3 linked regions of the Homo sapiens genome follow. The protein of the gene in region 3 purifies or fractionates together with the protein of the main gene of each other region. This does not show direct contact. Each region holds a gene or a part of one and is shown on either strand. Other genes may lie near its edges.

Region 1 (3,563 bases), on a different chromosome or scaffold from region 3:
TAAGGGTCCTTTTTCTAAGGCACAAGAAGGGTGTGCTTATCCAGTTGCTCTGTGTTTGTTGCTAGGGGGTACCGTCTAGCCATGGAGGGTACCAACACACACTATTGAAGCTGATTGTGCTCTGTTTTTTTTCTATATAAGTAAAGTGTTGTTTCATCCAGGGCTTGACTGCATTATGTTCTCCTTCATGACTCTGATAAAGCGATGCAATGGGCATATGTGATTAGAGTCAATTCCTGGGATTAGCAAGTGATGCCCAGTGTTCTGCTTAACAATTAGAATAACCCAACTTGGTCATAAAGTACTATCCTTTTTATATACTACTGGATTTGGTTTGATACTACTTAGTTTAGTAACTTTGCTTCTATTTTTCAAGAGATGAGATTGGCCTGTGTATTTCTTTTCTTGAAATGTACTCATCAAGCTTTGGAATGAACACTAAGCTGCCCTTGAAATGATTGAGAAATATCCTTTTTCTTCTATTATATTGAAGAATATGGGTAAAATTGGCATTATTTATTCTTTAAATGTTTGGTAAATTTTGCCAATGAAACAACCTGGGCCTATAGTTTACTTTGTGGGAAGGTTTTTATTTATATATACAATTTTAAATTTTTCTTATGTCTTTTAGTTCTGTACATATTTTAAACTCACAAGACATTTGTTATTATTGTTTTACACATTGCTCATTCAGATTTACTCAGATATTTGCCATTTCTGTTGTTCTTCACTTCTTGCTGCATCTCTTAGCTATAATCTTTTTTATTTTACCCGAAATACATTCTTTAGTATTTCAATTAGTGTAAAACTTTGGTGAATAATTCTCTTTTGTTTATATGAAAGTGTCTTTATTTCACATTAGTTTGTAAGGGATATTTTTGTTGGCTTTAGATTTCTATGCTGACAGTTATTATTTTAGCACAGTTATATTCTATGCTGACAGTTATATTCTTTTAGAACATTGAAGCCATGTTTTCATTGTCTTCTGCCTCTCATTTGTTCTGATGTACAGTCAGCAATAATTTTTTTTTTTGCTACTCCTTTGATGGTAATACCTCTTTTTAATTTTTGTGTGCTTTTCTAGTCTTTAGTTTTCAGTCACATCTATTTTTTTAGGTAAGATTATTTTCAATCGAGTGCTAGACTTTGAGATGAAAATGTGGTACTAACAATGAGGCTCCAGATGATGCTATCTTTTTTCAAAGACATATAACTTTTGCTTTTGGAGCCTATCCAAGTCACCTTAAAGGTTCCTTTGGAGTCCATTCAAGTGTTGTTTTTCTTGTTTCTGGATTATAGCTGTTCGGAGAAATGATGCTATGTGACTTCCAAGATAAGGTCATAAAAGATGATCTAGTTTCTGCCTTGTTCATTGGGCTGTAAGCTGCAGTATGAGAAGATCAACTCTCTGAAGCTGCCATGCCATGAGAAAGTCATGTGGTGAAGCCATATTCAGGCACTCTAGTCAACATTTACATCTGAGCTTAATGTTTGAATCATTTCAACAAAGGCACCAGAAACACAAATAAAGAAACCTCCAAATGGTTTTAGCCTGCAGCCATCAAGTGACTCCCAGCCTTCAAGGCTTTCCAGCTGACGTCCTAATTACAGTAGAGAAGAGACAAGTAGTCACCTCTGTGCCCTGGCTGAATTCTTGACCTGCAGAATCTGTGAGTATAATAAAATGGTTGCTTCATGCCACTAAGCTTTAGGGTTGTTTGTTACACAACAATGGTGAAAGGAATGAGTGTTCTGGAGGTGTCAAAGGAAATAAGGAAATGAAAATGAATAAAAAGTATAAGATTGGAAGAAAAAATAGAGCTGCCATTTTTTATGGTTGATGTTATTGTGTAAATAGAAAATGTAAAAGAATATACAGATAAACTATTAATATTCACATATGAGTTTAGAAAATTACTTGATACAAGGTCAACATACTATAATCAATTGTATTTGTATATTGCGGTTATAAACATTCTACCTTTTTAAAAGGAAATATAAAGGGCAATGAATAGTCAGGACACTTCATGAAGAAGACCAAAGTAGGAGAATTTGCCATATTACATTTCAAGATATTTAAATTTATAATAAGTAATATAGTGTGGTAATGGCACAAGGGTAGACAAATAGACAAATGAAACAGAATACAGACACCAGAAACAGACTCACGCATGTATAATCATTTGATTTTTGACAAAGATGGTATTGCAAAATAGTGGGAAAAGGGTGTAGTTTCAATTATTGGTGCTAGAATAATTGGATAGCTATTTGAAAAAAATTAAACTTGACATATATCTCAAACCTTACACACAAATCAATTCCAGGTGGAATGTAGATCTAAATGTAAAAAGCACCACAATAAAGCTTTTATAAATAAATGTAAGATAACATTTTCACGTTCTCAGGGTCTGGAAAGATTTCTTTAAAAATTCACAGAAAAGCATTAACCATAAAGAAAAATATTTTATATATGACTAATTAAAAATGTTTAAAAAAAGGCTAGCCTCAGGATAAAAGTTACTTGCAACACATAGGGACAAAATGTTGCTATTAGGAATAGAGACAAAAAAATATAGAAAAATAGAAAAAGTTCTTAACAGATATTCCACAAAAGAAAATATATAAATGGCAATAAATATATGAAAAGATGCACAACTTCTTAGTAATCAGTGAAATGTAAATTAAAACCACTGTGAAATACTATTCCTCAGAAAATAAAAGGGCTAAAAGAGAAACAAAGTGTCCAGAATGAGGACCTTACACTACTTTATACAATGCTAGTCATACCATTCTTGGATTATGACATTCAATTCTGGGACGACCTTTTGTAGAAGAGAGAAACTGACAAACTGAAACATATTTAGTGACACCTCTAGAGATCACAGCTTATGAAGAATGGCTAGAGAAACAGGAAATACTAAGTTGGAGAAGAGAAGGCTTCATATTACAAGGATAAAGATGAGTTTATAATGGGTAATTATTAGAATCAAAGAAACATGAAAGGAAACAGTTCTCAGCTTAATCTCAGAAAATAATGTTCTAATGTTTTAAGCTGACTAAAAGCAGAATGGAAATGCCTCTGGAATTTTCAGCTCACTGTAACTGGAGGTGTTCATAAGTAATTTCTGGACAACCACTCTATGGAGTTATTACTGGTAGGATGTGGGGGGAAGATAGAGAGCGTATTAGTCAGGGTTTTCTAGAGGGACAGAACTAATAAGATAGGTGTATATATAAAGGGGAATTTATTAAGAAGCATTGACTCACACGATCACAAGATGAAGTCCCACATTAGGCTGTCTGCAAGCTGAGGAGCAAGAAAGCCAGTCCAAGTTCCAAAACCTCAAAAATAGGGAAGCCGACAGTGCAGCCTTCAGTCTGTGGTCGAAGGTCCAAGAGTCCCAAAGCTGAAGAACTTGTATTCCAATGTTCAAGGGCAGGAAGCATCTAGTACGGGAGAAAGATGTGGGCTGGGAGACTAAGCCAGTCTAGTCCTTCCATGTTCCTTTGCCTGCTTTTATGCTAGCAGTGCTGGAAGCTGATTAGATGGTACCCAGCCAGAC
Region 2 (2,711 bases), on a different chromosome or scaffold from region 3:
TCACCTGAGGTCAGGAGTTCAAGACCAGCCTGGCCAACATGGCGAAACCCCATCTCTACTAAAAAATACAAAAATTAGCCAGGTGTGGTGGCACGTGCCTGTAATCCCAGCTACGCAGGAGGCTGAGGCAGAAGAATCGCCTGAACCTGGGAGGCGGAGGTTGCAGTGAGCCAAGATCACGCCATTGTACTCTAGCCTGAGCTACAAGAGCAAAACTCTGTCTCTAAAAAACAAAACAAAACAAAACAAAACAAAAAATTTGCTGGGCGTGGTGGCGCACCTGTAATCCCAGCTACTCGGAAGGCTGAGGCTTGAGAATCGCTTGAATCTGGGAGGCAGGGGTTGCAGTGAGCCAAGATTGCACCGCTACATTCCAGCCTGGGCAACAGAGCGAGACTCCATCTCAAAAAACAAAACAAAACAAAAAACATTATAGCTAAAAACATGTAGCTTAAAACCATAAGCTACATGTTTCAGTGGTATCTACAAGCACCCTGAGTTATAAATTTGGGGTTTTGTGGGTACAAACCCTGGGCTTGCAGCACTGCTCAGATAAATAAGGAAGGAGGCTGGAGGATATTTACATGCTTTTGCCATAATATGAAAGTGTAATCTTTTTTTTTGAGATAGGGTCTCACCCAGGCTGGGGTACAGTGGCATGATTATGGCTCACTGCAGCCTGGAACTCCTGGGCTAAAGCGATCCTCCTGCCTCAGCCTCCCGAGTAGCTGGGATTACAGGTGAATGTCACCACACCCTGTTGTTGTTTTTTGTAGAGATGAGGTCTCGTGATGTTACCCAGGCTGCTCTCTCAAACTTCTGGGCTCAAGCAATTCTCCCACCTGGCTTATTTTTTTTTTTAATTTTTTGTAGAGGTGGGGGGTCTCACTATGTTGTCCAGTCTGGTCTCAAGCTCCTGGCTTCGAGTGATCCTCCCACCCTAGCCTCCAAAAGCATTGGGATTACAGGTGTGAGCCACAACACCTAGCCTAAAGTATAATCTCTATTTCTGTATTTTGCTATCACAGAATTGAGTTCCTAAGTCTTTTTTTTTGGAGATGGAGTCTCGCTCTGTGGCCCAGGCTGGAGTACAGTACTGCAATCTCGGCTCACTGCAACCTCCATATCCGGAGTTCAAGCAATTCTCCTGCCTCAGCCTAGCGAGTAGCTGAGATGACAGGCAGGTGCCACCACGCCCAACTAATTTTTGCATTTTTAATAGAGACGGGGTTTCACTGTGTTGGCCAGACTGGTCTCAAACTCCTGATCCTGACCTCAGGTGATTCACCTGCCTTGGCCTCCCAAAGTGCTGGGATTACAGGTGTGAGCCACCAGGACTGGCCAAGTTCCTAAATTTCAAAGGCAGAAGACTTTCCTGTCACAGTTGACAGTTTATTGTAACAGTTACCTGCAGGGGCTGTGGATTTGTAACCTTGAAACAATGAATGCTGGTTATATGAAACTCCTTTTATTAGACTGTTGTAAGGAAGGGTGTTTGCGCCCTTAAAGCTGTAAACTACTGTTTGCCAAGGGCAGTTGAATTTGCTCACCACCCTCAAGATAAATAACCCACTGACTTCAAAGTCACCAATTCTATTATAATTAACTATCTAGAATAAAAGAACTGTACATTTTCTTATAGTTAGAAACATTATTTGAAAGCCTGTCTCTTTGCCTGAGGTAAATGACCTATGATCATGCCACTGTACTCCAGCCTAGGCGACAGAGGAAGGTTCCGACTTTTCCTTTCTTTTTTCTTTTTCTGGGAGACAGGGTCTCGCTCTATTGCCTAGGCTGGAGTGCAGTGGCATGACCTTGGTTACTGCAGCCTTGACCTCATGGGTTCAAGTGATCCTCCCACCTCAGCTTCCCAGTAGCTAAGACTACAGGTGTGCGCCACTGCACCTGGCTAATTTTTGTAGAGATGTGATTGTGCCATGTTGCCCAGGCTGGACTTGAACTACCAAGCTCAAATGATCCACCTGCCTCAGCCTCCCATAGTGCTGGGATTACAGGCATGAGCCACCTGGCCCGGCCCAATCCCAATGCTTAAAACACACACACACACACACACACACACACACACACACGCACACACACACACACACACACTACAAAATCTTGTTCTTCGATTCTTTCTCTCATCTCTATTTCTTACAACTACCCTGAAAAATAGGTATTGGCCACACCCAATTTATACATGAGGAAATTGAGGCTCAGAGAGGTTCTGAGACCTGCCCTAAGTCACACAGTGGCTGAGTACTGAAGCTCAGTTTTGCTTGGCTCCTGAGGCTATACATTTTACATGGAGCTCTGCTGGACTTTGGTTCCCTGTGCTAAGAAATGATAGTGTACAATTTACACTTCCCTGTAATCCCAGCACTTTGGGAGGCTGAGGCCGGCAGATCACCTGAGGTCAAGAGTTCAAGACCAGCCAATATGGCAAAATCCCATCTCTACTAAAAATACAAAAATTAGCCAGGTATGGTGGCGGGCGCCTGTAATCCCAGCTACTCAGGAGACTGAGGCAGGAGAGTCACTTGAACCCGGGAGGCAGAGGTTGCAGTAAGCCAAGATTGCGCTACTGCACTCCAGCCTGGACGACAGAGCGAGACTCTGTCTCAAAAAAAAAAAAAAAAATTTACACTTCCCACTGATAGTGGGAAGCAGGGGGTTTGGGGAAGCTGGGAGCCAAGCTGGGAGCCAAGGTG
Region 3 (2,755 bases):
TGCCCATTAGTGTTTTAATGGTCAAATTATAGTACGTATCTAAGTATTCCTGTTGAATTATATCATGATATTGTCTGCTTTCTTCCAGTATTGCACGTTGAAGGTAGCCATTTAGCTTAATACTTAAGCCCAACAAAAATATTCTTGTGATTTGAATACCAGGTGCTAGACTTTCATTGCCCCAAGTTTGCCGAATAGCTCTTCTAGCTTCTATTTGTCCAGGCTCTGCAGCTATTAGTAGTATTAAAAAAGGACTTTTCTCTTGGCATTTTTCAGGCTCATTAATAATATATTTGAAATGGTAAGAATTTGGATGTCCAGTACCTTTTTCATTGTAAATACTTCCATTGGCACTAAGTGTATTCTCCAGGCCTGTAACTCCTTGTGGTGACAGGTCTGTGTTATTAGAGTTAGTTGCTGTTTGAGGCCTCAGGGTTTGAGGGACTGTTTCTTTCCAAATGTTCCGAAGGGAGCTGTGGTTTGTCTCACTTTTTGTTGACCGAAATCCTCGGAAAGTGTATGTCACAGGGTTTTCTTTGAATCCAGCTCTGCCTGGCAGCCAGTCATGATGATTGAAAAACAAAAACATAGCAAAAAGAAACACTAGAGAAAGTACTCCAATAAGATGAGTGCGGAACAGAGACCTTTTGGCATTCCAGGTCATCTTTGCAAAGCAGCAGTGTCTTCTCCTCCACTGAAGCATGTTGTAAATATCCAGTAGTGGTATATGAGAGATTGGTGACCAAAAATGTTTTCTTCTCCTTAATACTATTCTTTGGCAATCATTTTCTAATTCAGTCACATTGTCTCTCTTGTAGTCATTCTATAAAAATGAAGCACAAAAGTTTACAGAACTGCCTGAAAGGGACTTTGGGTACTAATATGATCAGGGCAAATAGGAATGTCTTAAGCTGTGAAAATATAACCCAGGAACGAAGCTTGTAATTTATTTCCCCTTGGCAACATAACATCACTGAGAACAAGATTAATTTATTTAAAAATATACCTTTGTAGCACAGTGAGCATTTTAAAGAGATGAGGTGATGGATTCATTTCATTGTCTTGTTACACTGGTCATTTGTACTTTTGACCCAAGTTAAAGATTTAAAAGTTGAATGTATTCGAGAAAAATGTTACTAGATTTCTGAGAAGGGTTGTGTAAAAACGCCTTAAGAGCAGATGGAAAATTTATTGGCATTAATTAAAATTGATTTGACATACTATTGGTGGTATGGTGCACAGTCAGAGGCCTTTTTTGTAAAATGGTCATGTATCAGTTGTGGGACAGACGGTGCAAGGTTGATTATGGCAGAGTTCTGTTAGTCACAGTACACTGCTTGGCATGTTTCCATTGGCCCCTACTGTGTTGAGAAAGTCAATGAGAAGATGCACCTGTCAAAATTAATTTTCAGGGTCTAGTAACTTCAGTGTAGGATTTTTAGACAGTAATAAATGATTAACACTTTCAAAAATTTTAACTTTTCTTTGTAAATATGAAGTATTCATGATATAATTGTTCTTAGACTTAAGATTAATTTTAAAATACAGCATGTAAGTGTCTTTGATTATCTATGGCTTTGGCAGAACACTGTTACATATCTTGGTTGAGTCTCCATGTTAGAATTAAAAGAGCTACTTTGAAACCAACTGTTTAAAATTCTGAATTTCACACAATATATTTTTAAATATCCTTGAGTTGTGCTTTATTCTAAATTTACATGCAGATAATTTGTTAAACTTTTAGAACTTGTCATTAGCACAGTTAGAGCCCTATATTTTAAAAAGGTTATGAGATGGCAATATGTGAGGTTCATGATGGCATATATTAAGAACTGGTTATGTTATCTTGCAACAAGGTTTTCAGTGCATAGCACAGATTTGTTCACATTTGTTCTTAGTGTTTTTGTTGTTGTTTTTAGTTTTTGGGGACCAATATGTCGAGGGAGTAGAGGTGGGCAAAGAGGTATAGTTTGAATTCCATTAAAACAGGAGAAAACTTTTTGACAAGGAGTGATGAATATGTAATTTTAATTTTTCCAACTTTTTATTATGAAAATTACTTCTTTAAGCAAAAGAAATCAATTAAAAAGTTTTAATACAGGAGCATTTATTTGAAATTACAGTGTATGCATAAATACATGTATGTATTTAGCCTGTGATAATGAGAGAGTCATGGTTAATATTAAATTTGTTTAACCTTGGCATAAATTTAATTACTTCTAGGAAATAGAATTTACATGGAAATCCTCATGTAATTGAATAGTTATAAAGTAAAATTCACATACATAACGTTAAGTACTTTGAAAATATTGATTGAAAGTGTTAGATGTAAATGAATGAAAGTGCTATTATAGTAGCAGCCACTAGGAGGAGCAAGTAGGTGGGAATTTGAACAAATATCTAAGGTCCAACCATATAGGCACCAGCGTTTGAAATTTCTAGTTTCTGAGATTACAGAGTACTTTTAGAAGTTATAATATTTCTAAAATGTAAAAAAATTAAGCATTTTGAAAGATGTGAACAATTTTTTTAAGTTTGGAATTTTAAAAGCAAATCATCTAGTATGCTATTTGTTAGAATTTGTTTATATGAATTTAAACTCAGCATTAGTGTAATGAAAACCAAGGCTATTCACTGTACCAACAAAACATAGTTCTGCTGTAAGCTAAGCTGAAAATAATAGAGCTGAGCATTCTGATTTAGAAACTCAGTGTTTTCCTTCTTGTACTTTTAAATAGCTGGCCATTCTTTTTAG

Evidence for each region.
Region 1: the proteins of B3GALT2 (region 3) and HMGN5 purify together in Homo sapiens (co-immunoprecipitation; one large-scale study listed by IntAct). This does not show direct contact.
Region 2: the proteins of B3GALT2 (region 3) and CLN3 purify together in Homo sapiens (affinity purification with mass spectrometry, with the first as the bait; one large-scale study listed by BioGRID). This does not show direct contact.

Annotation. Positions count from the first base shown.
Region 1 is NC_000023.11:81,191,851-81,195,413, forward strand, and holds part of HMGN5 (high mobility group nucleosome-binding domain-containing protein 5), read right to left. Parts: intron 1-3,563. UniProt on the Homo sapiens protein: Preferentially binds to euchromatin and modulates cellular transcription by counteracting linker histone-mediated chromatin compaction.
Region 2 is NC_000016.10:28,479,364-28,482,074, forward strand, and holds part of CLN3 (battenin), read right to left. Parts: intron 1-2,711.
Region 3 is NC_000001.11:193,180,860-193,183,614, forward strand, and holds part of B3GALT2 (beta-1,3-galactosyltransferase 2), read right to left. Parts: intron 824-2,755; 5' UTR 704-823; coding exon 1-703. UniProt on the Homo sapiens protein: Beta-1,3-galactosyltransferase that transfers galactose from UDP-galactose to substrates with a terminal beta-N-acetylglucosamine (beta-GlcNAc) residue. Can also utilize substrates with a terminal galactose residue, albeit with lower efficiency.